7 linked regions of the Homo sapiens genome follow. The protein of the gene in region 1 purifies or fractionates together with the protein of each later gene. This does not show direct contact. Each region holds a gene or a part of one and is shown in the gene's direction. Other genes may lie near its edges.

Region 1 (4,635 bases):
TTCTTAGAATTCAGTCAACAGAGTCCCCTGGGCTGACCTCTCCATCCCTGCTGGCTGGGACAGATTCCATTGAGTCATTCCTCTAAAGAAATGCCTAGTCCAGCTGCCACCTGCACCCAGGTTGGCTCTTTTACTCCACAGATCCACGCTTGCTTTCTTCAGCCCCGTGCAGCCTCTGGGATGAAACAGCTCTGACAGCTCACTTGGATGTAGATGAAAGTTCTCCCACCTTGGCCCCCCACCCCTACCCCTTCATATGATTGGCATGTTAGTGCATTTGGGGATCACTGGCTACATGGAAACCTAAATTTACAGATCAATTTGTCAATTCATTGGAAGAAAGCAAGGTAGAGAGAAGGTTTATCACCATCTTGCAGCTTCTGTAGATTTAGTGGAGGCAGCAAGGGATAGTTCTCTCCTCCTCAGATCTACTCAGGTCAACTTGTTATGAAACGCTTGTTTCTCAATCTACCTTAAAAACAAGCCTTATAAAATTGATAGAATTATTCACCAATTCTTTATTGAATCAGCGGGAGATTCACAATAAAGAACAGCAAGCAAATAAACTCTCCTACGAGTTGTTAGCCCCATGAAGCTAAAACCAATCATTTACTTGGCAGGAAAAAAATTCAACCAACATTTGATGGCATTAAGAATCTCATGTAAGAGTGTACCCTCAAAAGAGCAAATGTGGCTTATCGTGGTGGCTCACGCCTGTAATCCCAGCACTTTAGGAGGCCGAGGCAGGCAGATCACTTGAGGTCAGGAGTTCAAGATCAGCCTGGTCAACATGGTGAAACCCCGTCTCTACTAAAAATACAAAAATTAGTTGTGTGTGGTGGCGGGCACCTGTAATCCCAGGTACTTGGGAGGCTGAGGCAGGAGAATCACTTGAATCTGGGAGGCATATGTTGCAGTGAGCCAAGATTGTGCCACTGGACTCCAGCCTGGGCGACAGAGCAAAACTGTGTCTCAAAGAAAATGAAAATAAAAATAAAAAGAGTAAATGCAACCTCTGACTTCCACAGGAGTCAGGGACTGAGCCCACAGGAGGAAGTTCAGTGCCCATCCTCTCTTATCTGAGCATTTCAGGCTTCTTGGGGGCAGGACAGTATATCATCCTGCTGCATTTCTCAGCAAAAAAATATGTCATCAGTTCTCCCATGGTCATGAGTTTTCAGAGGAAAACTGTTTCTGCCTCATCGTCTTCCTATTTCATACAATACCTTCAGATGGGTTTTACAACAGCCCTGCATGCTGAAATGAGGCAAACAGGCCTATGGTTCTTTCCTGTTACAGGAAGCAGTGTTCACATTGCTCAGTATTTTAAAACCCAAAATTGGCCCTTGCCTAAGTGCAGCATAAAGTATTTTGTAAGTCAAGATGTTTTGATCCTTTGTTGATGTCATCATTTTATTTATTATAGCATTTCTAGTTATGAACCCAAGTTAATGGACTTTTTCTTTTTTTTTTTTTTTTTTTTTTTTTTTTGAGACAGAGTCTCACTCTGTCTCCCAGGCTGGAGTGCAGTGGCACAATCTCTGCTCTCTGCAACCTCTGCCTCCCAGGTTCAAGTGATTCTTTTGCCTCAGCCTCCTGAGTAGCTGGGATTACAGGTGCCCGCCACCATGCCCGGCTAATTTTCATATTTTTAGTAGAGACGGGGTTTCACCATGTTGGCCAGGCTGGTCTCAAACTCCTGACCTCATGATCAGCCCACCTCGGCCTCCCAAAGTGCTGGGATTACAGGCGTTGCCACCACGCCTGGCCAAGTTAATGGACTCTTTAACAAGCTTCTTGACAACTGGCAAACTTCAACTGTTTCTTTATTAAAATTTTATTTTATTTTATTTTACTTTATTTTTTGAGATGGAGTCTCACTCTGTCACCCAGGGTGGAGTACAGTGGCATGATCACAGCTCACTGTAGCCCTGACCTCCCGGGCTCAAGCAATCCTCCCACCTCAGCTTCCTGAGTAGCTGGGACTACAGGTGCACACCACCACACTCGGCTAATTTTTAAATTTTTTTTAGAGATAGGTTCTCACTATGTTGCCCAGGCTGCTCTCAAACTCCTGGGATCAAGTGACCTTCCTGCCTCAAAAAAATTTTATCTTTGTTCTCTTATGACTGGGATAGCGGAAGTTTAGTTTTTAATTCTGAATTACAGATTACAGTTATTGACTTTGCATTGCCTTGTAGCTCTTGGCTGCTCTTTGTGGGGTTCAGGGACCAGTAGAATCAGGAGCCCCTGGGAGCTTATTAGGAATGCAGAATTTCAGGCCCCTCCCCAGACCTACTGAGAATCTGCATTTTAAGAAGATGTGACTTTCTGACGAGCTCAGATCTCTCTCCAGCCTTCCCTAGGGTTCATCTTGCATCTGATACCTCCTCCTTCCTCCAGTGGCTCTCTAACTCCTAGCTCTTCCAACTAAAGATGTTGTTGCTATGAGTCCCATTTCCATTCATCATTACACTGGTAGTTAATATTAGTGGGAAGCTTACTGGCTTTCTTGATAAACAACACTATCAAAATTTGAATAAGTGAACTTGTATTCATTTCTCTGGCTGTTGACAATAATGGTTAGTCTAAATTCTCAAAAGATAGTGGCTGTGTTTATTTTTGTCTCTTCACACTGTTCCTGAGACAGGCATTACACTCATGTTTAGGTGATCATGAGATGTCCAACATTGTGTTGTAATTCTTAAGCAGTATCTTCTAAAACTAAAGCTGAGTTTTCTAAGAGGTGAATATGAGGTATCAAATAGGTAAAATAACCATATTGGAGATTATCTCATTGACAAAGCTGCTTTGTTTACCCCCTTCTGGCCAGAACACAATTCCATTTTTTAATGTATAGTCATGCACCACATAATGACATTTCAGTCAACAATACAACACATATGCAATAGTGGTCCCATAAGATGGTAATGGAGCTGCCCCCTGTGGGTGTACCATTTCTTATGTTTTATACTGAATTTTTACTGTACTATTTCTATGTTTAGATATACAAACACCATCGTGTTACCATTACCTATAGTATTCAGCACAGTAACGTGCTGTACAGGTTTGTAGTCTAGGAGCAGGAGGCCATACCATATAGCTCAGGTGTGTAGTAGGCAGCACCATCTGGGTTTGTGTAAGTGCACTCTGTGATGTTTGCACAATGACAACGTTGCTTAAGAACACATTTTTCAGAATGTATCCCTGTCGTTAAGCAATCCACAACTGTATGTGTCATATTTTAAAGGTTTCAATAATTTAAAAATACATCCCCCTCCAATGTGTTTGGTGGTGGTGGTGTTCTTATTTTGATGTGTTTGTTTGTTTGTTGCAAATGAAAATGTATTTGATGTCCAGGATATCCTAAATAGAAACCATAGTTTAAAATCGTATATAAGAAATATTTTGTTATAAATTGACATAAATACCTAGGAAAATATTGAAATTGTCAATAAAATAAGTTCATTACCTCTTGGAATATGTTATTTTCAAAATAAACTATAATCTATAGTTCATTATCAAATCAAAATTACATAAGGATTGAGATAAGCAAAGACTACATAATGCAATAATGTTCTGTACCTATACCAATAAGCTTGATTAAAAGAGTGTTCTGTAAGTAGCATTTTCTAACTGATTCTGTATATTCTAGCCACAAGAATCTTGACTGAACCCTTTGTGTAGGACTCAACAGGCCCAGGTATCCAACGATAAACATCCCTGTAAGGCGTCTGTCTTTAGCTGAAGCTGGACAATTGGATTCACAGACGTTAAGACAGAGGCTCTGGAACACAGAGACCTAAGGGCAGATCTTATCTCTATCGTTTACTGTTTGACCTTGAGATCTTATCTCTACCGTTTACTATTTGACCTTGAGCAGTTACAATTCCTCATCTTTAAAAGAGGATTAAATGCAGTAATACATATAAAATATTTAGAGCTGTATTAGCGAGTATTATTGTTGATGTAGGCTGTAAAAAAGTTACAAAACAGTACTCAGTATTCATAAGTTGTTTCAGTTAAAGATGTTTTAAATTTAATATAATATAATTGAAGTGCTAGGTTCATATTTCCTGACAAATAAATTCTAAGCAATACTGTATCCTTTTGCAGGTAGAAGAAGCAGATGATTGGCTCAGATATGGAAACCCTTGGGAGAAGTCCCGCCCAGAATTCATGCTGCCTGTGCACTTCTATGGAAAAGTAGAACACACCAACACCGGGACCAAGTGGATTGACACTCAAGTATTCAGAGTGCTCGTATAGCCAGCGTTTTGTATAGTATTTAGTACAGTAGATAATACATTGACTATGTAGCATATAGTGGTGATATTGAGTATAGGGCATGTCGTGTTTTGAATAATAGAATATATTTTTGTAAATAAATCTGTTACTTCTCTTAGCGCAGCCCAGTCATTTTGGAGACAAAGGAGCTGAGGCCAAGAGAGGAGTGACTTTTATAAGGGTCATTTTGCAACCAGCTTTGTCAGAAAATTGTCAGTTCTTTTTTTTTTTTTTTTTTTTTTGCCAGAAAATTGTCAGTTCTATAGTAACCAGCATGCTTACCTCTTTGGTTTTATATTAAGGTGTTGATAGCAAAATTGAATAATTTGAAATGTCATTCCTGGCTGG
Region 2 (4,635 bases), on another chromosome or scaffold:
AAAAATACAAAAAATTAGCTGGGCGTGGTCCCAGCTACTTGGGAGGCTGAGGTGGGAAGATGACTTGAGCCCAGGAGGTGGAGGTTGCAGTGAGCTGAGGTCGTGCTACTGTACTCCAGCCTGAGTGACAGAGTGAGACCCCATCTCAAAAATGAAACAAAAACCCTTTCACTGTAAGACATAATTTGAACTGTTCATGTTAAAACATTATCAGGAGATTGAAAACAAATCTGACATGCCAACATCATGTTTTATTTTTAATTAGATTATTTAGTCTGACACTGCTAAAGCACCTGAGTTCTTAGCAGTTTGCTTGTTAAAATTGGGAATTGTTTGTTCACCTGTCATCTCATTTTGGGGACTGGAAATAGTGTTACCGAGTAAAAGGGACTTGCTACCCAATGTGCTAGAAGCCAATACCATGATACTGAGTAGCTGGTCCCAGCTACTTGGCAGGCTGAGGTGGAATGATAGCTTGAGCCTGGGGTGGGGAGTGGAGGGTGCAGTGAGCCGAGATTGCACCACTGCACTCCAGCCTGGGTAACAGAGAAAAGTTTTTTTTTTTCTTCTTTTTTTTTTTTTGAGACAGAGTCTCTCTCTGTTGCCCAGGCTGGAGTGCAGTGGCGTGATCTCGGCTCACTGCAGCCTCTGCCTCTCGGGTTCAAGCGATTCTCCTGCCTCAGCCTCCCAAGTAGCTGGGACTACAGGCGTGTGCCACCAGGCCCGGCTAATTTTTTGTATTTTTAGTAGAGACGCGGTGTTAGCCAGAATGGTCTCAATCTCCTGACCTTGTGATCCACCCGCCTCGGCCTCCCAAAGTGCTGGGATTACAGGCGTGAGCCACTGCGCCTGGCCGAGAAAAGTTTTTTATTTCAAGTCGACTAACAAGAAGACAGGAGTCCAGCTCAACTCTGTCTCCCTAGCTGGCTTTAAGGAGTACTTTTATTAAAAAAATGTTTAGGGAGTGGATTCTGGGATTAGTAGGTGATTGGTGGAAGGAAAGGGGAGGCCTGGAAAGTCTTCAGGTATGTGCAGTTATCTCTTCCTGCCTCCATATAGGTCTCATGTGCAAATTCAGGGGGAGTTAGTGTGAAATGTGGTGGAAATTCAGGCTGTGATATAAGCAAGCTTGTTTTGCATATACTCTAGTCAGTTATTGGTTCCAACCAATTCAGCCAGTTTTGTTATCTTACAAGCGGAGGGAGTTTCACTGTTTCAGCAAGTTATTTTCTTATGTGCTATCCTGTAAGCCCAAGAATTTAGTCATTGGTGTTTTTGTTTGTTTGTTTGTTTTTTAACTCTTTGGGGCAGTTTCAGTAGTCAAGAGAGTTTGCCTCACCCTCAGATAATTCCCTATCAGTGATGGGTGCACCAAAATCTCAGAAATCACCACTAAAGAATTTATTCATGTAACCAGACACCACCTGTTCCCCAGAAACCTATTGAAATAAAACATAAATTAAAAAAGAAAATTCCCAGTCTAGCCAGTCTAGTAACACACAAATGATTTGGTACAAGACAAGATTAATTTATAAAACATCTATCAATTATAATAGCAAATATTAAGCACTTACTACTAGTCAGTTACTCTTTCTAGGAACTTAATGTGTATTAGCTTAATATACATTAATTCTTTTTTTTTTTTTTTTTTTTTTTTTTGAGACAGAGTTTCACTCTTGTTGCCCAGGATGGAGTGCAATGGTGTGGTCTTAGCTCACTGCAACCTCCACCTCCTGGGTTCAAGCAATTCTGCCTCGGCCGCCTGAATAGCCGGGATTACAGGTGCGTGCCACCATGTCTGGCTAATTTTTGTATTTTTAGTAGAGACAGGGTTTCACCATGTTAGCCAGGCTGGTCTCTAACTCCTGACCTCAGGTGATCCGCCTGCCTCAGCACCCCCTAAGTGCTGGGATTACAGGCATGAGCTACTGCGCCTGGACTTGAACTTAATTTTTACACTACAGATAGTTGGATTTTCCTTTTTGATTCAGTCTGACAATCATTCTTTTAATTTGTGTTTAGAACATTTAATTTAATGTAATTATTGATGTGATTGGGTTAAAATCCATTGTTTTGCTAGTTTTCTATTTGTTCCATCAACTCTTTGTTCCTTTTCTCCTGATCTTTCTGTTTTGGGAATAATCTTTTATAATTGCATTTCATCTCTATTATTGGCTTATTATTTTTGCCTCTCAAAAAATGTCTTTAGGCCGGGCGCAGTGGCTTACAACTCTAATCCCAGCACTTTGGGAGGCTAAGGCGGGCGGATCATGAGGTCAGGAGATCAAGACCATCGTGGCTAACAGTAGAGAAACCCTGTCTCTACTAAAAATACAAAAAAAAAATTAGCCTGGTGCAGTGGTGGGTGCCTGTAGTCCCAGCTACTTGGGAGGCTGAGGCAGGAGAATGGTATGAACCCGGGAGGCGGAGCTTGCAGTGAGCCAAGATTGCGCCACTGTGCTCCAGCCTGGGCAACAGAGTGAGACTCCGTCTCAAAAAAAATAATAAATAAATAAATGTTTTTAGTAGTTGCCCTACAGCTTACAGCATACATTTTAAGTTAATAACATTCTGTCTTTATACACTACATTACTATTGAAAATACCTTACAACAGTATTCTCCCAGTTCCTCCTGTCTTTTGGGCTACTGTTATGCATTTTATTTTTACATATACTATAAACTTACAATACATTGCTATTTTACTGTAGATGGTCAATTATGTTTTAGAGTGGTAAAAAATAAGAAAAGTCTTTGTACACGTACCTTCATTTTAGCCATTTCCATGGATCTTCACTTATTTGTATAGATCCAGTTTTCTCTCTGGTATTACAGCCCTTCTGCCTGAAGGACTTTAATTTTTCTTGTAGTGTGGGTCTGCTGGTAATAAATTCTGATTTTTTTTTTGTCTGAAAAAGTATCTATTTCTTTATTTTAAAAAATCATCAGGGCCGGGCACAGTGGCTCATGCCTGTAATCCCAGCACTTCGGGAGGCCGAGGTGGGCGGATCACCAGGTCAGGAAATCGAGACCATCTTGGCTAACACGGTGAAACCCCATCTCTACTAAAAACACACAAAAAATTAGCCGGGCGTGGTGGCGGGCACCTGTAGTCCCAGCTACTTGGGAGGCTGAGGCAGGAGAATGGCATGAACCCAGGAGGCAGAGCTTGCAGTGAACCGAGATGGCGCCACTGCACTCCAGCCTGGGCGACAGAGTGAGACTCCATCTCAAAAAAAAAAAAAAAAAAATTCATGCTTTTTATTGATATATAATTCACATATAATAAAATTCACCCTTTTAAAATGTACAGTGGTTTTTAGTATATTCAAAACCTTGGCCAGGCACAGTGGCTCTAAAATTAACCATGCATGGTGGCTCGTGCCTGTGGTCCCAGCTACTTGGGAGTCTGACGTGGGAAGATCACTTGAGCTTAGGAGGTCGAAGTTGCAGTGAGCCGAGATCACACCACTACACTCCAGCCTAGGTGACACAGTGAGACTCTATCAAAAAAAAAAACAAAAAAAACCCCACAAAATGTTGTGCAGCCATCATCACTAATTCCAGAATGCTGTTATCAACCCCAAATAAAACCACACCCATTAGTAGTCACTTTCCATACCTCCCTGTCTTTAACCCCTGGCAACCACTGTCTGGTATTTTTCACCGTATATAAGATTCTGGGTCAGTGGTGTTTTGTTTTCTTTCAGTACTTTAAAAAAATACACTTCATTGTCTCTGGCTCTCATAGTTTTTTTGAGAAGTCTAGTGTATAACTGTCTTTTTTCTTTTGTATGTAATGCATAAATGTGTGCTGCTCTCACCACCTTCCCCTCCACCTCCCTCCACCCCTGCTTTTAAGATTTTCTCTTAGGGCAGCTGTTTGAATACATTGTGTGTATGTGTTTTAGCCTATTCTCTTTGCTGCTTGGATCTGCAGTTTGATATCTTTCATAATTTATGGAAATTTCTTGGCTTTTTCCTCTTCAAATATTTCTTCTGCCCCATTTTCTCTTTCTGGGATTCTAATGACACATGTGTTAGATGATTTAATTGTACCATCGTTCTTGGATATTCTCTCCATTTTTCTTTCTTTTTTTCTTCTCTGTTTCAGTTTAGATACTTTTCACTGACCGTTTTTTTTCTTTTTTTGAGATGAAGTCTCGCTCTGTCACCCAAGCTGGAGTACAGTGGTGCAATCTTGGCTCACTGCAACCCCTACTTCCCAGGTTCAAACAATTCTGCCTCAGCCTCCCAAATAGCTGGGATTACAGGCATGCACCACCATGCCCAGCTAATTTTTTTTGTATTTTTAGTAGAGACGGGGTTTGATAAGGTTGGCCAGGTGGGTCTTGAACGCCTGACCTCAAGTGATCTGCCTGCCTTGGCCTCCCAGAGTATTGGGATTACAGGCATGAGCCTCTGCGCCTGGCCATTATTGACCTATCTTTAAGTTCACTGAGTCTTTCTTATAGTTTCTGTCTCTCTGCTAACGTTCCTTATCTGTTCATATATGTTGTCCACATTTTCCACAAGAGTCTTTGACATTAATTTTACTTACTTCAAGTTCTCTGATAATTTCAGCATCTGGGAAATATAATCTCTTGAATCTGGTTCTGTTAATTTCTATATCTCTT
Region 3 (4,635 bases), on another chromosome or scaffold:
CAGGAAAAGAAGTGCAGGTATTCCATTATTGAATTTCTTTATATATTAGCAGGTAGAAATCTGCCAGCGTGCTTTGAAGTGGAATAGATAGGGGTATGGGTGTTTACAATGTCTGCTACACAAGAGTTGTCTGTTGACTTACCTAAGGAGCCTACTCATAGCTGAGTCATCAAATTGGTTGCAAGTATCCACACACACACTCTATCTGGGCCACAGTTGTTTTAGGAGGCATAGTCCTTTGGAGTATATTCTCTCAAAGTGGTCTTTTATGCCTGGAGGGACTGCCTTCCTTTTCAATTATTGAAGCTATTTTGTGACCACTATTTAAATTATTCCAGAAGTCTTCACCAAAGATGACTAGTAACAACGGGAAGAGAAAGAGGGCTCAAGAACATCCTGTTAAGGTCATTATATAGAAATTAGATTCTTTTCTAAGGTTAGTTCAGTCTCCAGTGTTTCTTCTCCTTTTTCTTCTACTTCTCCCATTTCAAGGAGTTTTTCTTATGAGTCACAAGTAAAATTATTCAACTACTTGCTCTTTTGACTTGATAACAGTTTCAAAATACTACCTTTATAAATTTAGATCTGTTGTGATTTGTAACTGCAGAGGAACAATGAGTAATTCTCATTTTCTAAAGATATACCGTCAATAGAAATTACCATCTCCACAACTACTCTCCTCCCACCATCCCTGGAGAGATTTTTGAATTTTCATTTTCTATTCAAGGGCTGAGTATATGCATTAGGAAAAGAAAATGGTAACAGGAACAGAAAGAGCAGCAAGGACCTCTGACCAAGTTTGGATATTTCTCATTTCTGGGCTTCCGGGAAAAAGGGAGCTAGGACTGAGTTGGAAGGAAGAAAGCTGTGTAAAGAAAGTTAAAGAAGGTCATAAAGGCTTGGCCAGCCTCGTAGCTCTTCCCAAAGCAGGCTCTATTTTTGATCATTTGCATGGTTGTATGATAAATTACATTTTACATACATAAGCATACTATCATGGATAGTATGAATGTTTCTGTTTTTAACTGTGAGCCTCATTATTTCAAGTGCCCTTGGCTTGTACTGGGGAAAAGATGACTCTTGTCATTTTATCTGCATTTTCTCAGAGACTTGGGATCATGGGCAAGGAATGTCTTCATATTTTTTGCAGAAAATCATTTAAATATCAAGAAAAACTAAGTGTGCAAGGAACTTAAGGAAGCTCTTACAAGAACTTTTATTTTCCCTTTATTAAAAAATATTTGTCTTATTTTGGAATTTATCATTATTCTTTTTCAATTCTACTTTCATTAGGTTTTAAACCGATCTAGTTCCAAAGACATATGGCTTTATTAAAAGACATTGCAAATTTTCTTATTATGATAAACAGATAATAAGATGCCTTATAACAAAGGCAAAAAATTATTCAGTTATATTTGTAATTGTGAATCTATTATGAAGGTATGATGAAACAGTCAAGTTTAAGCAATATAAGTTGGGTATTGCATTAAATTTTCTTAAAGTGCTCCAAATTAAAATGAATCACATTTAAAAATCCATATATCCATGGTATTCCCTTTTTGGCTTCTTTTTTTTTTTTTTTTTTTTTTTGAGATGGAATCTCGTTATGTTGCTCAGGCCAGGCTGAAGTGCAATGGTGCGATCTTGGCTCACTACAAACTCCACCTCCTGGGTTCAAGCGATTCTCCTGCCTCAGCCTCCCGAGTTGCTGGGATTATAGGCGCCCACCACCACACCTGGCTAATTTTTGTATTTTTAGTAGAAACGGGGTTTCTTCATGTTGGCCAGGCTGATCTTGACCTGGCCTCAGGTGATCCACCTGCCTTGGCCTCCCAAAGTGCTGGGATTACAGGCATGATCCACCACACCCGACCCCCTTTTGGCTTCTAATAGCAATGATAGAACATATCTTGGGAGAAAAACTCTCCAGAATTTGTTTGTAAAAATAACCCTTGTTTGTGCCTAAAGCCACTCTTTGTTTACTAGTATTCCAAAATAATTTCCAAGAAATAAGTCAGGCTTCAATTAGAAGCACCTACTAATCCACAAACTGTGAATAACACATAACTCCAAGTACAAATCAGATTAGCTGGTACTGTCATGCTTTTTTCCACAAAGGATGGAGGGTGCTAAATGTCACAGCATATGTAGAGGTATTTAGAATCAGTATTTAGAATTAGTAGACTGCATTTTTCCCCAATAGGTTTCATAGAATGGGCAATATTATCAAAGATGTCAATAGATAGTCTCTGAAAAATAAAGTTTCATGGCCACATATATTTGGGAAACTCAGAATGTACAATTTTTTATATTTGGAGAATGTTGACACCTATTACTATATTAAAGACTCTGAGATGTACTATAAGAAAGAAATCTGTTGACCTTGTTTGTTGACCTCAGTGTTTTCCTCACTCTTTACATGGAATACAATTGAGGAAAGCTGTTTTAGCTATGTGGTTGGAAATGAGGAACACCGTTTTCACTCCTTCACCAGGGTCTACCCAGATCTCTGTTGTTCTCATTGACATGGTCATCATTGTCATCATCGTCATTGCAAAATTTGTTCTTAAATGAATTAAGCACCGTGCTGAGAAAGTTACATATATAATTTCGGTGTTATTCAAGTTTACAATTTAAGACTATCAGTTTGAATAGTACACACATCATCTAGCCAGCCAGTCACTAAAGGATTAATTCAAGATAAGGTACATTTTTGGTTTAAATTATAGGGTTTATATTTAGTTAAGGAAGAGAATAGAGAGGTGCCATTTTCAGACTGAAAGTCTCAGGATAAAGCCATTATCTATCTGTTAGCTATCTTTGAGGAAGATTTCTGGAACTGTTTAAATCATGAGGAGACTGCTTGGACAGTTAGGAAGAATGTCTCAGGCATAAAATGCTGCATTAGGAAAAGAAAATGGTAACAGGAACAGAAAGAGCAGCAAGGACCTCTGACCAAGGTTGGGTATTTCTCATTTCTGGGCTTCTGGGAAAAAGGGAGCTAGGACTGAGTTGGAAGGAAGAAAGCTGTGTAAAGAAAGTTAAAGAAGGTCAAAAAGGCTTGGCCAGCCTCATAGCTCTTCCCAAAGCAGGCTCTATTTTTGATCATTTGCATGGTTGTATGATAAATTACGTTTTATATACATAAGCATTTAGCTTGCTTACCAGAAGGATGCAACTTAATATGCCTTAATTTTATCATTGTTGTTTGTGAGGATAAAATCATTTGAGTCATGAATAAACAGATAATGAGCATATAATCTTTATGAATATACTTATGTATTACATTAATATTTTATTTTTAATAATAAAATGTGTTGAGAAATAACAGTATACAAGATAACAAATCTACATTGAATCAACTTGAATTGTTTTATTTCCCCAATTGACTGATAAGCGTGTAAATTAGTTATTTTAACCTACACAGGTATTCAAGTATACAAGCTATTTTGAATGAATATTTGTTTTTCTACTACAAAGTGTTATCAGTTCCTATTGAGTTCATAATTTGAGAAAGGCCTTGTTAGCACCAGACTTCAGCCAAAGGCAGCTTTTTAAAAATGTCCCCATCCTAACAAAAATAATCGTCTTTTTATTTACTGTGATTTATTTACTTATATGCCTGAGCCCCAGTTTTTGAAATTGAATGTATGAACTAAAATATTTGTAACTATAGAGAATTCTTTCCACTTCTGAATCTTATAGGTATCATTCCTATCCATGGGGGACCAAGAATCACCCAACCAAAAGATGAAAATGCTGCATTTTGAGTGGACTTGATTTTCTCAGTGAAGTTCAAGTTCTGGACTTCAGCCGCTATTGCAAGATGCCCAAGGATTGGGTGCTGCTAGAGGGTGTGGAAAAGACCAAGATGCCATGGGGCCTGCAGGACTTCTTTCTGGGGGTCCTGTGCTGGAGTATATGACAGCTGCGGTACTTGAGGGCTTCATTGCCAGAACACATTATATACAGGATGTCAGAGCTACCAGTGTGCTGCTGGGAGAAAATGCTGCAAAATTCATCTTTTGGAGGGTGGGGGGAAAACCCAAAAACAACAACAAAAAAACTCTCTTACAGAATTTTCCTTAACATTAAAAAAAACTTGTCATATTTTTCAAAGGCACATTTGATACTCAGAATTGCTAAAAGTATATTTAAAGACATCTAGCCTTCCATATGTAAAAAATATTTTAGATAAAGACAGTTACAGGACTCAGAATAATATATTGGGTGATTCACTGTATCCTCCATTTTTACATTTAAAGAAATTCAAAATACGTGATTAAATTTTTTTTTTTTTAATGGATGGGTTGGTTCTCGCTTAACCACTTGGGTGCTAGTGGTCTTGAACTGTGATACAGTGTAGACAGTATTTGTAACCTTGCACAGCCTCTGGGGGTAACTGTCAAACTGTCAGATTTAACTTAGACTAATAGAATATATTGCTGTACAGTGTGTGTATATGTTTATATATGAGGGCGGAAGGAGAGAGGTTTTGATTAGACTAATGCTTTGCTGCTAATCAAACTTATAGTATTTTTAGAGCACTTTGAAGAGTTTATAGAATCTATGAAAAAGATGCAATATTCCTCATCCTAAATCCCTCCTTATTACAATTACCTAAATTGTTTATGA
Region 4 (4,635 bases), on another chromosome or scaffold:
GCCATTTGTATTTCATAGAGGCTGCTTGTATGTATTAAATGCATTTCTTTTCTGTAGGAAACTCCGGGACGTTTTACAGCAGAGGCTGATCAAATTCTTCATTGACCAGAGTAAAAAAGATGCTGAGAAGTATGCAAAGTTTTTTGAAGATTACGGCCTGTTCATGCGGGAGGGCATTGTGACCGCCACCGAGCAGGAGGTCAAGGTATAGGAGCTGTGTTCCAGGCCTTTTTCTGGGCCACCTTGTCCCTGGGGCTGCTGAGGAAGCTGGTGGAGGTGTCCCCTGATGTGGCGACGGTGCAGCTGGGTACCCTGGCTGCTGCTGCTGCTGCCACCAGGGTCAGGAAATGGAAGGCCAGGCTTCTGGGCCTCTGGCACCTTCCAGGCACATCCTTACCCTCCCACCAGTGCTGTGCTGTGCTCTGAAGGGCTCAGCCTCACTGCTGTGTGAAGGTGCAGCCCAGGGAGTGGCAGGAAGAGGGCGTGCACACACTGTCTCCCCTCAGAGGATGTTGGGGGCTGGGGAGCCACAGACAGGTGGGACAAGCCAAGGACTCCGATCCCGTGGGTGGGGAAGTGGGTGGTCTCAGTGTCTGTTGAGGGACTATTCATCATGTACTGGATATCAGTCTCCAAATACTATGCTACAGGGGCCAGTCGTTCAGTTAATCCAATAGTGGATGGCTGAAAAACGAAACATTTGTTCCATAAACATTTTTTGTCCATTTTTTATTGAGATACAACTTACATAGCATCAGATTCACAGAATTCACCTTTTAACACGTAAAATTCAGTGGCATTTAGTGCATTCACAGTGTGGTGTGGCTGCCTCCACTGTAACCCCAGAACATTTCATCCCAGGAGCCCATCCCGTGCTGGTGTCCCTTCTCCCCAGCAGCAGGAGGAGGGTGACCACGTGTGTGGGGTCCCAAGGAGGCCGTGTTCTGGTTGTTTGCCGACTTCGGCAGCTTCTGACACAGGCCTCTTCATTCTCCTTTATCTTCATTTGAGTTAACAGCACACAGGTAAGAGTCAGAGACATTTCTAGGTCTTTGTAGGTGTGCACGTGTGACATGTCTTATCAATGCAGACCCACCATGTGTGCAGGGGTGGCCTGGGCCCTGCTGGTTGGGTGTCCAGCTCCTTGCTTTTCCCTCTTTCTGTTTTCCCCCTGCGTCCTTCCAGCTGCAGCTCCCATGAGCTCTAGAGGTCACAGCTGCGTTCAGCTGATGGGGAGGAGGGCAAACCCCTCCCCTAAGGGCCCTTCTCCAAATCCCACTGAAACCCACTGGGCAAAGCCAGTCTCTGCCATAGCCAGCTGTGAGGAGGGCCGGGAACCGTGGACTTCACCCGTGTCCGTGTGCCCACCAGAGACTGACTCTGTCACTGAGGGCAGAGGGAAGACGCTGGGTCCAGGCCGGGCTCTGCTGTTGGGTGGGGTCCCCTCCCAGGGCGTGGTGCGCGTAGCTCCCTGGAGAGCCCCTGGGCCACCTGGGGCAGGAGGTGCTTCCTAAGCCCCCAGAGCTCCCAAAAGGGGCCTGATGGGCAGAGCAAGGCCTGCTCTCGGACAACCCCCGAGTCCACTACCGTCCCTCGGGTCAGGGCCAGCCTGGAGTGCCAGGAGGCCATGGGCATCGGAGGGTTTGCGCCCAGTTAGTTGGGCAACATTGAGCCCATGGGCCTGGAATAAGTGGTGACCTGCCCCGTCCCTTCTAGGAGGACATAGCAAAGCTGCTGCGCTACGAGTCCTCGGCGCTGCCCTCCGGGCAGCTAACCAGCCTCTCAGAATACGCCAGCCGCATGCGGGCCGGCACCCGCAACATCTACTACCTGTGCGCCCCCAACCGTCACCTGGCAGAGCACTCACCCTACTATGAGGCCATGAAGAAGAAAGACACAGAGGTGGGTGAGCGGTGGGTGGGGCGGGCTCCGGGGGCTGCAACCTGGGGAGGGTCTTGACCTTCTCAGCTCTGTGCTGGGTGAACCTGCCCAAGACTCCGGGCAGGGCTGCACAGTGGGTCAGGGTCACGGGCACAGAGGCCGGACCGACTGTGACGGCTGTTTCCCACTTGGAGGTCACATGTGGTTTTTTTTGTTTGTTTTTTGTTTTTTTGAGATGGAGTCTTGCTCTCTCGCCCAGGCTAGAGTGCAGTGGTGCGATCTCGGCTCACTGCAACTTCCGCCTCCTGGGTTCAGGTCATTCTCCTGCCTCAGCCTCCTGAGTAGCTGGGACTACAGGTGCACACCACCACACCCAGCAAATTTTTGTATTTTTAATAGAGACGGCATTTCACCATGTTGGTCTCGAACTCCTGACCTCATGATCTGCCTGCTTTGGCCTCCCAAAGTGCTGGGATTACAGGCGTGAGCCACTGCACTCAGCCACATGTGGATTTCTTTATGCGTGGAGTGCTTCTGCCTTGAAGGCAGTCAGAGCCTTCCTTAGACCCAGGTGTCGTAGTAACTGTCATGCAGGCCTAGGAACCCCAACTGCCCCGGTGTTCCCCAGTGTGGCCCGCTTGGCTCCCCCAGCCCTCCTGCCGCCCTCATCCTTTCTTCTGTGGTGGCTGGAGGCCCCCGGGGTCTGATGGAGCTGCTCTTGGCCACCTGCAGGTTCTCTTCTGCTTTGAGCAGTTTGATGAGCTCACCCTGCTGCACCTTCGTGAGTTTGACAAGAAGAAGCTGATCTCTGTGGAGACGGACATAGTCGTGGATCACTACAAGGAGGAGAAGTTTGAGGACAGGTCCCCAGGTCGGCATCCCCTGCTCTCTAGGCGTGGGGCTGGTTTCCACTCCCCGCACGCCTCTCCTGCCCCGCAGCGAGGGCTTCCTTTGGGTTTTCGTCAGTTGACCTGGGCTCAGCCACCCCCGAGAAGAGCCTTGTGGGAGCACCCTGGTGACTGGAGGAAGGTGCCTCCTGGTTTAGATATCAGGGGTCTGTCCAGTGCTCCTGCCACGGTGGCTTCTGGAGCTGGCCCAGCTTCTTGAGAGGCTGTGTATTTTTTTAAAGCCCTAACCAAGTTGTATGGGCCTCAGGCAACCTGAAGCATCCTTTGAGGTTTTACTTTTAGATGAAAAGCATCTTGCTAGCTTGTGTCTCCATCCTGGTGGGAGAGGAGGTGGGAGCTGGAAGCATGCTGCGTGGCCCCCATGGAAGCCGGGGAGTTGGGATGCAGGCCTGAGCTCCCTGTCGCCTGCTCTTCCGCAGCCGCCGAGTGCCTATCAGAGAAGGAGACGGAGGAGCTCATGGCCTGGATGAGAAATGTGCTGGGGTCGCGTGTCACCAACGTGAAGGTGAGGCTTTCCCGGGGATGGACCACCACTTGGCCGCAGTGTCCCTAACAGGCTGGCCAGCTGGTGGCTCCCAGTACCTGGCCCGTTGGGTGTCCTTCCAGCAGCAGCAGAAGCCCTTGGTGTCAGGTGGAGACCCTGTGGGTCCCTGCTCGGCACGTGTTGCTCGGGAGTGCCGCTGAGGCAGGAAGGCCGTGTCTTTCTCCCAGCCCTGCTCCAGAGCAGGTGTGAACTGAGAACTGAAAAACCAGCATCCTGAGTGGGAGCTGCAATGGCTGAGGACGTGGGGGTTCCAAACAAGGGACATGCTACCCCAGCCCTCAGGAGCTCACATGCTCACTTGGGTGCTTAGTCGGGGGTTTTGGGTGGGCTTCAGAGAGCTAAGACTCCCCCCACCAACCTGTCTAGCTCAGAGTGAGAAATGAGCGTCCCATGCATGGTCACTTGGAGGAAGGGGCCTCATGCAGGGTGGGCTGGCATGGAGCAGAGGACGATGGATTCGGGCAGCTCCTGGAGGCAGCAGCGGGGCACCAGGGTGGTGGAGCCCCTCGGGCACAGTATCTTTGCGTGGGGCATCAGCTCAGGGCCCACAAGTTAGTGGGTAATGGGGAGGGAGCAGCGCTGGTCCAGGGGAGTCCTTGAGACCCCGCCTGCTACCTCGTGGTCTGGGTGACCTTCACCCCTGGTAAGATCCTGCCAGCCCTCTCACATTGGGAACCTCTATCACCCTCAACCCCGGGCTTTGCTCACAGGTGACCCTCCGACTGGACACCCACCCTGCCATGGTCACCGTGCTGGAGATGGGGGCTGCCCGCCACTTCCTGCGCATGCAGCAGCTGGCCAAGACCCAGGAGGAGCGCGCACAGCTCCTGCAGCCCACGCTGGAGATCAACCCCAGGTGAGGCCACGCTCCTGGCTCTTCCAGCCTGTGGGATTCCCCAGAATCCTGTGTGTGGTGTTCTTTTGTTGTGGAATGTGACACAGAAGAAAAGTGCGTGAGGCCTGTGGACATGTGGGTAACTATAAGGAGCTGTATGCAGTTTAGGCTGCACCCATGTGAAATGGAACCTGGCCAGCCCCTTACCATCCCCAGGTGTCACCTGGGAGGTTAGCCACATCCCAGCCTGTGACCATGTCCTCGTTTTGCTTTATGGCTTTGCCACCTGTGCGTGTCCTGGACATGCTCAGTTTTGCCTGTTTTGAGCTTTGTACGTGGATCTTGGTGTTTGCTGAAGTCTCACGTTGCTCACTTGGCATGAGGGTTGCCCATGCAGAGGGGCTGCCACAAGTTCATTTTCATAGCCGAATAATGTCCGCTGCAGAAACCCACCTCGGCACAGCAGA
Region 5 (4,635 bases), on another chromosome or scaffold:
CAGCTGCCTGTTATATACACTAAACGTTCTGCTAGGAAACAAAATTTAGAAATAACTTTTCCCATTTAGATCTGAAGAAAGAGCGAAAAACCTTTTCCAGTGCCCAGTACCTCCTTCCAGATCTGGGCTGCTGTGTCCGCATCACAGTTCCGCATCCTAACGAGATGTTTCCTTGCAGCTTGTCGTCACGCAGCTGGGCTATGACACACGTGTGACCATCCTCGGGCACGTGCAGAGAGGAGGGACCCCTTCGGCATTCGACAGGATCTTGGTGAGTTGGGAAGGGTTGGGCATCTTCACAAGGTCTCTAGGAGGAAGCGTTTCTGGAGAGGCACAGGCACCAGCCGGCCACAGAGGCTGGCAAGGTGCTCCCCGAGAGATGCCCGCGGCCCGGCCCTCATCTTAACGATCCTTGAGACCTTTGGTGTAGACCAGTCTCTAGGCCTGCAGCCATTCAGATGCGGGGAGAGCTCCCTAATGTGGGAAGGCAGTGCTTGGTGTTGGCACGACGTGGACCCCAGAGGGCACAATCCCAGGGCAGAAAGGCTGTGTTTCTAGTGAGTTTCTGGAAACTGACTCAGGGCAGCAGGAATCCCAAGTACAAACCCTCAGTTCTTAACACTCCTGCTCTCCATGTGCCCTGACCTCCTCTCTGTTCCCGTCTTGCCAGTTCTAAAGGAGTGGAAATCGCTTTGCTCTAAAGAGTTGGGCTGGAAGCGGGAGGGGCTGTGAGCACCTGACTGAGGTCATTGGACGTCATGGAAAGATAGGAGGTGACAGGGACAGGGCAGGACGGGAGGCTGCCCCTGACCCACATGGACCTGGTTTCCAGGCCAGCCGCATGGGAGTGGAGGCAGTCATCGCCTTGCTAGAGGCCACCCCGGACACCCCAGCTTGCGTCGTGTCACTGAACGGGAACCACGCCGTGCGCCTGCCGCTGATGGAGTGCGTGCAGATGGTGAGTGGGCAGCCCATGGCCAAGGGCAGGGCGGAGACGGCTGGGACAGAAGCTGCTTGTCAGGCCAGCCTGGGCACCTTGGGTGTCTCGTCGGTGCACGATGCATTACACGGCCTTTCTGAGAAGGAGGTGAGCTGCCCGTGGGGAGGGAGAAGGCTTATGTTCTCTCCCACACCTGCAGAGCCTGCGCCGTCTTCGCTCTTTGGTTTTCTAAGTTACCATCCATCTGTGTGGCACATAGTCGTAACCTCCCCTGAGTGGGGGTCTAGAGCATCGGGATCCTCAACAGTCGAGGATCCAGGTGGCCCCAGTGCACCAGGTGCTGCAGAAGGACAGAGTGCAGGGAGGCAGCCGAGAGAGAGAGATCCGTGGACAGACTGCAGGGAGGCGGGCGTGAGAGAGACCCATGGGGCAGAGGGGGCAGGGAGGCAGGGAGGCGGGCGTGAGAGAGATCTACAGGGTGGTATTTTGTAGGGGAAGGTGGGACCTTCCCAAACTTCTCCAGTTTCAGCCATTTCCTGTCCTCCTATCCCCAAGGACATTCAGGTCTGTGATGGGACACAGGGAAAGCTCTGGTCACCCGAAGATACACCCACCCTTCTTGGGCCAGGGAACTGTCTGCCTGCAAATGAACAAAGGGAAAAGCAGTTCCAGCTTTTCAGGCATTGGTTCAGTAGTGGAGGTGGCTGTGGAGTTAGCTGCATTTGAAGTTATTTAATTAATTAATTTATTTATTTAGAGACGGAGTCTCACTGTTGCCCAGGCTAGAGTGCAGTGGCGTGATCTTGGCTCACTGCAAGCTCCGCCTCCTGGGTTCACGCCATTCTCCTGCCTCAGCCTTCCGAGTAGCTGGGACTACAGGTGCCCACCACCACGCCTGGCTAATTTTTTTTTTTTTTTTTTTTTTTTGTATTTTTAGTAGAGGTGGGGTTTCACCGTGTTAGCCAGGATGGTCTGGATCTCCTGACCTTGTGATCCATCCACCTCGGCCTCCCAAAGTGCTGGGATTACAGGCATGAGCCACCACGCCCAGCTGTTGTTTTATTTTTCAGAGTTCATTCATGATTCGTGACTCCTGTTTTGTTGCCTCTTAACACACACAAAGAAGTCGTGAAGCAATCAAGTCAGGGACTTGTTGAAAGTCACCTTGTAAACATAATTTCCAAAAGCCCAAGGGAGAAAATAGTATTTGTGTGTATGTGTGTGAGTGTGTGCGCAGGCTTGTGTCTCTGTGTGTATGTATGTATATGTGTGTGCATGTGTATCTCTGTATATGCATATACATGCAGGTTTATGCATATATTTATGCATGTGTGTGCATGTTTGTGAGGTAGTTTGGGTCTGCATGTATGTGTATGTTTATATGCATGAGTATGCATGTTTGTGGTAGTATGTCTGCATGTATGTGTGTGCATGTTTGTGTGCATGCATGTTTGTACGTGTGTGCATGTTTTTGTGAGGTAGTGTGTGTGCATGTTAGTGTGTGTGCATGTGTGTATATGCATGTGTACATTTGAGTGTGAGGTAGTATGTTTCTGCATGTTAGTGTGTGCATGTATGTTTATATGCATGTGTATATATGTGTGTGAGGTAATGCATCTGCATGTGTGTGCATGTATGCTTATATGCATGTGTGAGCATGTTTGAGATAGTGTGTGCATGTCTGTGTGTGCATGTGTTTATATGGATGTGTGTGTATGTTTGTGAGAGGTAGTATGTGCCTGCATGTTTGTGTGTGTGTGCAGGTATGTTTCTATGCAGATGTGTGCATGTTGGCATGAGTGTGAGGTAGCGTGTGTCTGCATGTTTGTGTGTGCAGGTATGCTTATGTGCATATGTGTGTATGTTGGAGTGTGAGGTAGTGTGTGTCTGCACGTTAGTGTGTGCCTGTGTGCATGTGAGAGGCAGTAGGCTTAAAAGGCTCAGAGCACTGAACGACATGCGGTACGTGTATTTTGAGCCTGTGTCTCATGTCTCTGCTTGTCTAGAGACGACCGTGGTAGGTGTCACTTGCCCTGACCTTGAAACCACCCTTGTGTGGCTTTGTTTTTAAAGCTGAGGGACCACTACTGTGCACCTGCTGTTTGTCAGGCGTCTTCCTGAGGGTCTGACATGCTTGAATAACCTTAGAGATAGCTGGAAGTAGGAGTATTTTTCTCATCTTACAGATGAGGAAATTGAAGTTCAGAGCGAGAAAGAACTTGACCAAGATCCTGACGTTGCCCAGGGCTGCCTGGCGTGCATCAGTCCCAGCCCCGTGTCCCAGGGCCTCCATCCGGGCCCCTCTGCTCCCCCGCCCGCTGTGACCTCGCTCCCATCCCACATCCCCCAGTGAGCTGGTGTGTTCTGTTTTGTTTTTCCCCACCATAATCAAATTGAGAATTCCTTAGAACCATGCCTGAGAGATTTCATTTCCTCTGGCTTTGTTCTCTTGGAGTTAAATCTTCACAGTGTTGTGTCCACAAACAGCAGGTGACACCTTCTCTTTTTCCTCAGAAGCCTCCTGAGCTAAGCAGTCCCAGGGCTCTGACCTCACAGCCGGGCCGTGTGGGGCTGGCTGCCAACCAGCATTAGGACACACTTGGCGGCCGGTCGTCTAGACCATTAACCCTGGGGCTGCTGGCTGCCCGGGTCAGACTGGAGGGGGCTGGTGGGAAGGACCGAGCCAGTCTCTACCTACCCCATCCATGATGCACCAGGTCCTGACACATTCTTTCTTCTTTTCATCATTGTTTTAAAAGACTCAGGATGTGCAGAAGGCGATGGACGAGAGGAGATTTCAAGATGCGGTTCGACTCCGAGGGAGGTGAGGTGCTTTGGAGAAAGCTCTGCCCTGTCAGGAACACACACCCCTCAGGCCCAGCCACTGCAAACGTGCTTAGGGGTTGTGCTTATTCCATGTCACTGTGAAAAATCAGAAAGTCAGGCAGTACTCACAGCACCGCTCTTGCAGTAGCAGGCCCTGGTGACTGGTTAGAGAGAAATCATTTTCTAAATTTGCCATTGGTCCTTTTTGGTAAGGTGATGGTTGTTTAGGAGCTAATGAGATTAAGGCACAAGGTGACTTGTGGCCCTTTAACAACAAACCAAAACAAAAAAAGGAGTCTCCTTCTGTTGCCTAGGCTAAAGTGCAGTGGTGCCATCTCAGCTCCCTGCAATCTCTGCCTCCCATGTTCAAGCAATTCTCATGTCTCAGCCTCCCAAGTAGCTGCGACTACCAGCTCGTACCAGTGCATGTCACCACATCCAGCTAATTTTTGTATTTTTAGTACAGACGGGGTTTCAACATGTTGGCCAGGCTGGTCTCAAATTCCTGACCTCAAATGATTCACCCGCCTCAGCCTCCCAAAGTGCTGGGATTACAGGCTTGAGCCACCGCACGCATGTCTTGCAAGAGAAAGTTATGAAGTGTAGAAGCGTGCCCTTTTCTCTTAGTCCATTTCCACCAGACACGGACAGCACCGCGGGTCGCGGCTAAGGGCTCTGCCATGCACATGGAACCCTGGGGCCTCCTCCTTCTGCCCAGATAGTCGGGCAGACACATTGAGTGCTGGCAGATAAGCCACCTTTTCTCCACATGAGCCCTGAGTTGTGTCCGGTATTCTCGACTCCGGTCCAACGACACCCTTTTCCTTTAGGAGCTTTGCGGGCAACCTGAACACCTACAAGCGACTTGC
Region 6 (3,500 bases), on another chromosome or scaffold:
TAGGCTCGAGCGATCCTTCTGCCTCAGTATCCCAAGTAGCTGGGATCACAGGCATATGCCACCACACCCAACTAATTTTCTTGATTTTTTTTTTTTTGTAAAGATGGGATCTTGCCATGTTGCCCAGGCTGGTCTCAAACCCCTAGGCTCAAGTAATCCTCCTACCTTGTCCTCCCAAAGTGCAGTGATTACAAGCGTGACCAATCACACCTGGCCAAAACTTGTCCAGTTCTATTCCTTTTTTGGTTTCATTTTTACGGGAACCTGCAACTTAGGATAAAATCTATATGGGCAGCCAAAAGATGCTTTATTCCATTGTTGAGCACCTACTGTATACAGGGGGCCTTGGGTGAAAGCAGAGTAGGGAATACAAAAGTGAAAGAGAAAAGTCACTGTTTACGAAGTTTACCATCTTGAAGAAAAGCTATAAAGCTTGGCAAAAGCTATCAAATTGCTGGGCATATGATAGCAGTGCTAAACATTGGCATAGCTAGGGCACATCTAGTGAGATAACATTACAGACCTGATAACTTGAAGATGATTTTAAAAAATAAAAATACGTCAATTTCAGAATGTTTAGAAAACAAGAAAAAGGAAAATAATAATCTACAAGTGGCCATATTAGCATTTGGAATATATCCTTCCACTGTTTTTTTGCTATGTAGACATATACATGTATACACATATGGGGGGTATATTTTTACACATCTATTTTTAATGAGATTATACCATATATATTGTTCTGTATTTTTTCCACTTAATATTTCATAAACCTCTTTCTGATCCTTTTACATCCTTTATAACAATAGAACAGGTTTGCACACCCTCCTCACTTAGGAAACCTTCCACCAAAGCAGTTTTGCTTTTTTTGTTTTGGTTTGGTTTGGTTTGGTTTGGAGACAGAGTCTCGCTCTGTTGCCAGGCTGAAGTGCAGTGGCATGATCTCGGCTCACTGCTACCTCCGTCTTCCGGGTTCAAGCGATTCTCCTGCCTCAGCCTCCCGAGTAGCTGGGACTACAGGCGCATGCCACCACGCCCGGCTAACGTTTTGTATTTTTAGTAGAGACGGGGTTTCACCGTGTTAGCCAGGATGGTCTCCATCTCTTGACCTCATGATCCGCCCACCCTGGCCTCCCAAAGTGCTGGGATTACAGGAGTGAGCCACCACGCCTGGCCACCAAAGCAGTTTTACATGTATCTGCTTTCCAACATTGCATTTCTAGAAGCTTTTATTTCAAGAATGTATGCCACAATTAAGTTTTGAAAAACACCGTTCTCTAGTATACTTTTTAATGCTTGCAATCTATTGGATCAGATGACCTTAACCAGTCCTGTGTTGAGCATTTAGATTTTTTCCAGTTCTTCACTGTCATAATAAACGACACATCCATTGTGTCTTCAGAATGCTTCTCAGAAGTACAGGTGATACATCAAAGACTGCTCAAAATTTTAAGGCAGTTGCCAAATTGCCTCCCCAAAACTTGTATCAGTCTGCACTCCCACCAGCATTGTACATGATGATGTTTTCATTCTTCCTAGCAAACTGTTATATTTTCTTTTCCAACTTGCTTATTCTTTAGGTGGAAATGGCATTCGCCTATCATTGACTAATGGTGCGTGGTTGTATATTTTTCCCTATTGGTTACTTGATTTTTTTTTTTCATGAGTTGCCTGTCATTACCTCAGTGTATTTTTCCTTTGGGCTTTTTGTCATTTTATTAGTTAATTTTAAAAAGTTACATATAGGAGTATTAACCTTCTTTTTTTTTTTGAGGTGGACTCTCGCTCTGTCACCCAGGCTGGAGTACAGTGGTGTGATCTCAGCTCACTGCAACCTCTGCCTCCCAGGTTCAAGCGATTCTCATGCCTCAGCCTCCTAAGTAGCTGGGATTACAGGCACACGCCACCATGCTCAGCTAATATTTTCGTATTTTTAGTAGAAACGGGGTTTTGCCATATTGGCCAGGCTGGTCTTGAACTCCTGACCTCAGGTGATCTGCCTGCCTCAGAGGAGTACTAACCTTCTGTTTAACAGATTGTAATAGTTCATTTTTTAATTTTGTTCAGCATGGTTTAAATTTTATAAAATATTTTAGTAATCAGGTCTATCTTTGCCTTTCCTCGTTTCTACTTTAGGTAATAACATGCTGAGAAATCTCTTAAGGTTAGATAAAATAATATTCATGTCGTATTTTTTATTTTTTTGCAACTAGACTTCTTTTCCATCTGAAATTTATTATTATAGAGAGAAATCAAAATTCAACTTTTTTTTTTTTTTTTTTTTGAGATGGAGTTTCACTCTTGTTGCCCAGGCTGGAGTGTAATGGCACAATCTCGGCTTACCACAACCTCTGCCACCCGGGCTCAAGCAACTCTCCTGCCTTAAGCCTCCCGGGTAGCTGGATTACAGGCATGCACTACCACGCCTGGCTAATTTTGTATTTGTAGTAGAGATGGGGTTTCTCCATGTTGGTCAGGCTGGTCTTGAACTCCCGACCTCAGGTGATCTGCCCACCTCAGCCTCCCAAAGTGTTGGGATTACAGGCATGAGCCACCATGCCCGGCCCAAAATTCAACTTTTTTACCCCAAAATAGAGCTGGTAATTCCTAACAATCTTTTATAAGGCTGGATTGGTAGAATAGCACTTCAATCAAAGGTTTGTGGGAATGGTTTCCCTGTGTTGCTGTATCATTCCTAATTATGATTCCCTTGCAATCCAACAGTTCTATCAAGGTTATTTTTTAAAGTTTCTCATCTTTTTTTTTTTCCTTAGAATCAAGTGTTCCCATGTGCCAAGGGGAACTGAGGCATTGGAAGACCGGTCACTACACTTTAATTCATGACCATAGCAAGGCTGAATTTGCCCTAGACTTAATTCTGTACTGTGGCTGTGAAGGTAAGAGGGAGGAAAGCAAGCGGTGGATTATTCCCCGTAGGAGGGGCAGTCTCTTCTGAGGGACCCTTTCCAGCTGAACCAATTCATAAGTAATTTGCCTAGTTCAGAATCTCACATCATGGGATCTCAAAGTCAAAGGGATTTTACGGGTCATGAATTCCAGTCTCCCAGCTCAAAATAGGATTTATATCTGTGACTAGGAAATGGGGAGATGGACCACACCATAATTTTCCCCTAAGTGTGCTCCCAGATCTATAGATTTTATGTAATTGCCCTTCTGGGAATATTTAGCATTTAATTCTCTCTTAATTTTCATATTCAAAGTTTATTGAAATAAGACTGCATTTCAGTTCAGCTGTCTCAGGAAATTAGGCATTTAGGGGAAGGCAATCCATGATAAACTAGATGATAAGTTCAAGCTCATAAGTCATAGAACCAGTTACTGCTGAACTCCCAGATCCCCCACTGTTAAGCAGCATGGGATCAGTGATTTAAGTAGATGGTGCGACTCTTTCAATAGGAGCTTTCTGAATGCTGTTTGTTTTTCTCTTGTAAGGCTGGGAGCCAGAATATGGCGGTTTTACTTCTTACATTGCCAAAGGT
Region 7 (3,854 bases), on another chromosome or scaffold:
TAGGAAGTCAGTGGCAAGAGCCTGTCAGGAGGCTCCCACAGTCCAAGCAAGAGGTCTAGGTGATTCAGACCACAGTGATGATAGGAGTGATGGCGTAGTTTGGGATACATTTTTAAGTGGAGCTTACTAGTAAATATTAGGATTTAGACTGGTATATGCTCACTTTAGATCATGAAACCTGAAGTGAGAAGAATTCTACTTAACAAGACTGCTGGAAACTTTTAAAGCATTTTAAGCGTGTGCTCAATAAGCAGGGTAGTTATGTAGTGGCCTTTTGGATCAATGGTTTGGGAACGTGGTGGAGAAAAGGAGGGTGATAATACGGTCTGATGCCTATGTGATCCCCCAGTAGCCTACATATGTGCCTAACGAAGACCTGCCTGTCACCAGGTACTGCCTAGGTTCTAAGCCCCAGACTGTGGCTGACATCTTCAGCAGCCAAGCTCAGTGTTTTAGACTAGGAACAGAATGCTCCTGTGATGCAGCTTCTTTTGGAGGTAGGGCTTTAAAAGAGAAGAAAGCAAAGACTTGGGAAGCAACAGAATGGGGAGGAGGAGGTTAAGAACAAGGAAGAAGCGCTCTGGGCATGGGGTGGCCCTGGGCTGCAGCACCCTGCCTGCCCCTCTCCTGTGGCCGCTGGGGAAAGCTGCTTTCCTCTAATGGGAGAAGCCTGATGTTCAGCTGCAGTTTTTCTTTTTATGTTTAAGTGATTCTGTAAGCTTAAAATTCTTTTCTTTTTTCCTTTCAGGCACATAGCAGTATTTCCCTGCAAGATAAAAATCCTCCCTCAGTACATTTTTAATTCTCGAGATCCGATAGTGATGGGGGTGACGGTGGAAGCAGGTCAGGTGAAACAGGGGACACCCATGTGTGTCCCAAGCAAAAATGTAAGTTCTAGTTGTACATTCTGTGGGTCATTTCTTAAAGCACTAAATGAGTGTCCAAGAGTCGTACCAACACAGCTTTGTGCCTGTAGTTCACAGTACTGTGCTGTGTATTTAGTGTGGTCTCCACCTTCTTAACAAATGTTTCAGTGTTTTTACCTCAGTAGGAAGAAAATGTGGTAACTTTAAAACAAGCAGAGCCTGTCACCTTCTGTTGTGCTTCAGTATTGGTAAATATCAGTGCTCCATAGTCAGTGTTGACTCAGTGCTGATCTCAGTGCTTCAGTTAATTGGGGCTCCAAGGCACTTTACATTATTGCCTTTTATTTTATTTTGAAAGGTTTCAAGCCTGTGGAAAAGTTTAAAAACTAGTATAATGAACACTCATGTTTACCTTCCCTTTCTGTCAGCATACCTAAGAAAAATTAATAATATTTCAACAATATCCTATAATTTGCAGCCCTCAACATTATTTCACCAGTTATTCCAAAGATGTTTTGGTAACTCTCCCCACCAATCTGGCCCAGTGCCCTGCAAGCTGCATTGCACTGGGGCTTGTTTTGTGGCTGAGCCTCAGTCAAGAACAGTCCTCCATTCTTTTTGAAGTGTCCCTGTTGTTTTGCAAATCCCTCCTCCATTTGGATTTATCTGTTTCTCTCCCTCCCAACTAGACACAGGTTAGAATTATTGGAAAGACACTCATGCAGTTTCCCTGTGTGCCTGCCTCTTGCATGACCCAGCCTGTCTGACTGCTGCTGATGCTCTGATTTCCTGGGGAAAGTGCTAGACGCCAACCATCTCCATTAGAAACTTGCCCCTTTATAATTACTCTGTAATCTGTCTGGTACCTGGAGTTCCTAATGGATATCCTGTTTCTCAACAGCCTTTATCCCAGTGCCTTTAGTACCCACTGGCAAGCGTTGCCTAAGTCAACTATTACGTAGATGGTTGCAAAATTGTGGATATACCTGTCCCCCCATTTCTTACAAAGAACCTCTTCCCACTGACCTTTTTATTGAGTCATAGACTCAGTGGGTTTTTTTTTTTTTAATATAATCCATTACCTTTATTCTTTTGATACTCAGATTTTCTATTGTGGTCAGTAGGAGCTCAACTGGCTCCTGTATCCTTGACACACAGCAGTCTGAGCATCATCTTCCTTTCTGGTTGAGATGTTCCAGCCTCATCTAGTACTTTCCCTGGCCCAAACCTGGTTCTTGTAATGGGCAATGGCACTTAGAAGTTGTCATTGCTTTTCTACCATTTCAGTGGACTAAGCCTGGACATTTATTTGTGTTACTTTCTATGTGGCTTTGGCCTCCTAAACCAACCAGAGCTCTCCCTGTTTTCACTCTTACTCTCCTGAATCTTTTTCTCCACAAAGGAGTCAGGGTTTTTTGCCCCAAACTCTGAGATCACATCACTCATCTGCTCACAGGCCATCATTCTTAAAATTTCAGGATTGGTCCTCACTCTGACTTCATTCCCATCAGCCACTTCAAGCTCATTCCTGACTCAGACCCTTTGTGCCTGCTGATCCCTCCTATTACGGCACCTGTCACGTGAAATGGTAGAGCAAAAATAGGAAATGACATTGGGTCAACAGGGCACTTGGAATGTTTTGCAAAGCACATTATCTCCTGTCATTCTTACAACCATCATGAAGGGAATAGGGTGTTGGTGGTGCCAGCCTAGTTTACCAAAATGTTACACCGTGAGTGATGAAAGGATCGCACTGCCATGACTTTTAAAACAGGCTTTTGCTCTAGTTCTTACTTCAGCTATCCAGCCATGGCGCCTGTGATTGGCATGAATTCTTCTGCATGCATTTTAATTTGTTCTTATTTTATAGTTTGTTGACATCGGAATAGTAACAAGTATTGAAATAAACCATAAACAAGTGGATGTTGCAAAAAAAGGACAAGAAGTTTGTGTAAAAATAGAACCTATCCCTGGTGAGTCACCCAAAATGTTTGGAAGACATTTTGAAGCTACAGATATTCTTGTTAGTAAGGTAAGTATTTCAGCAAAAGTGGCACACTTTAAGCAACAGGGAATCACTCTTCTTGGGTCACCTGTACCTGTAGCTCCTTGGGCTTCAGTTTGATTGTAGAATCTGATGGGACTGGATCCCCCATTAGGGCTTGACCTCTAGCTGGGCCTTGTCTGTTGAGGAAGTTGCTCTATCAGGAAAGCAGCACCAACAGAGAAAGCTAGGACTTTTAGGTCCCCTCGTGCCTGACATGCAAACCAGATGTGATTTTGGAATTCTACTCCCTTAGGCAGGCAAGCCCTGTTTTTTATTTCTGCTTAAGCTTTTTAGTACAGTGAGAGCGGGCATCTGGGGCCACAGCTTTCTTTGGCACGTTTGTTATGTTCTGTTTACCCTGTTTGTGCCTCGGGCATTGCAGATCAGCCGGCAGTCCATTGATGCACTCAAAGACTGGTTCAGAGATGAAATGCAGAAGAGTGACTGGCAGCTTATTGTGGAGCTGAAGAAAGTATTTGAAATCATCTAATTTTTTCACATGGAGCAGGAACTGGAGTAAATGCAATACTGTGTTGTAATATCCCAACAAAAATCAGACAAAAAATGGAACAGACGTATTTGGACACTGATGGACTTAAGTATGGAAGGAAGAAAAATAGGTGTATAAAATGTTTTCCATGAGAAACCAAGAAACTTACACTGGTTTGACAGTGGTCAGTTACATGTCCCCACAGTTCCAATGTGCCTGTTCACTCACCTCTCCCTTCCCCAACCCTTCTCTACTTGGCTGCTGTTTTAAAGTTTGCCCTTCCCCAAATTTGGATTTTTATTACAGATCTAAAGCTCTTTCGATTTTATACTGATTAAATCAGTACTGCAGTATTTGATTAACCAAGCTTCTGCAGATTTTGTGATTCTTGGGACTTTTTTGACGTAAGAAATACTTCTTTATTTATGCATATTCTTCCCACAGTGATTTT

Evidence for each region.
Region 2: the proteins of PYGL (region 1) and HMCES fractionate together in Homo sapiens (co-fractionation; one large-scale study listed by BioGRID). This does not show direct contact.
Region 3: the proteins of PYGL (region 1) and NEK10 purify together in Homo sapiens (co-immunoprecipitation; one large-scale study listed by IntAct). This does not show direct contact.
Region 4: the proteins of PYGL (region 1) and TRAP1 purify together in Homo sapiens (affinity purification with mass spectrometry, with the first as the bait; one large-scale study listed by BioGRID). This does not show direct contact.
Region 5: the proteins of PYGL (region 1) and PFKP fractionate together in Homo sapiens (co-fractionation; one large-scale study listed by BioGRID). This does not show direct contact.
Region 6: the proteins of PYGL (region 1) and OGFOD1 fractionate together in Homo sapiens (co-fractionation; one large-scale study listed by BioGRID). This does not show direct contact.
Region 7: the proteins of PYGL (region 1) and EIF5B purify together in Homo sapiens (affinity purification with mass spectrometry, with the first as the bait; one large-scale study listed by BioGRID). This does not show direct contact.

What each region holds. Positions count from the first base shown.
Region 1 is NC_000014.9:50,923,582-50,928,216, reverse strand, and holds part of PYGL (glycogen phosphorylase, liver form), read left to right. Parts: intron 1-4,116; coding exon 4,117-4,248; intron 4,249-4,635. UniProt on the Homo sapiens protein: Allosteric enzyme that catalyzes the rate-limiting step in glycogen catabolism, the phosphorolytic cleavage of glycogen to produce glucose-1-phosphate, and plays a central role in maintaining cellular and organismal glucose homeostasis.
Region 2 is NC_000003.12:129,291,929-129,296,563, forward strand, and holds part of HMCES (abasic site processing protein HMCES), read left to right. Parts: intron 1-4,635.
Region 3 is NC_000003.12:27,110,391-27,115,025, reverse strand, and holds part of NEK10 (serine/threonine-protein kinase Nek10), read left to right. Parts: intron 1-727; coding exon of another isoform or gene 728-746; exon of another isoform or gene 747-800; intron 801-3,705; coding exon 3,706-3,754; 3' UTR 3,755-4,635. UniProt on the Homo sapiens protein: Plays a role in the cellular response to UV irradiation. Mediates G2/M cell cycle arrest, MEK autoactivation and ERK1/2-signaling pathway activation in response to UV irradiation.
Region 4 is NC_000016.10:3,661,541-3,666,175, reverse strand, and holds part of TRAP1 (heat shock protein 75 kDa, mitochondrial isoform 1 precursor), read left to right. Parts: intron 1-57; coding exon 58-205; intron 206-714; exon of another isoform or gene 715-1,716; coding exon 1,717-1,902; exon of another isoform or gene 1,903-2,613; coding exon 2,614-2,752; exon of another isoform or gene 2,753-3,208; coding exon 3,209-3,294; exon of another isoform or gene 3,295-3,530; intron 3,531-4,043; coding exon 4,044-4,189; intron 4,190-4,635.
Region 5 is NC_000010.11:3,108,523-3,113,157, forward strand, and holds part of PFKP (ATP-dependent 6-phosphofructokinase, platelet type), read left to right. Parts: intron 1-178; coding exon 179-271; intron 272-832; coding exon 833-958; intron 959-3,699; coding exon 3,700-3,764; intron 3,765-4,596; coding exon 4,597-4,635. UniProt on the Homo sapiens protein: Catalyzes the phosphorylation of D-fructose 6-phosphate to fructose 1,6-bisphosphate by ATP, the first committing step of glycolysis.
Region 6 is NC_000016.10:56,472,054-56,475,553, forward strand, and holds part of OGFOD1 (prolyl 3-hydroxylase OGFOD1), read left to right. Parts: intron 1-2,774; coding exon 2,775-2,897; intron 2,898-3,453; coding exon 3,454-3,500.
Region 7 is NC_000002.12:99,396,012-99,399,865, forward strand, and holds part of EIF5B (eukaryotic translation initiation factor 5B), read left to right. Parts: intron 1-748; coding exon 749-887; intron 888-2,736; coding exon 2,737-2,898; intron 2,899-3,295; coding exon 3,296-3,403; 3' UTR 3,404-3,854. UniProt on the Homo sapiens protein: Plays a role in translation initiation.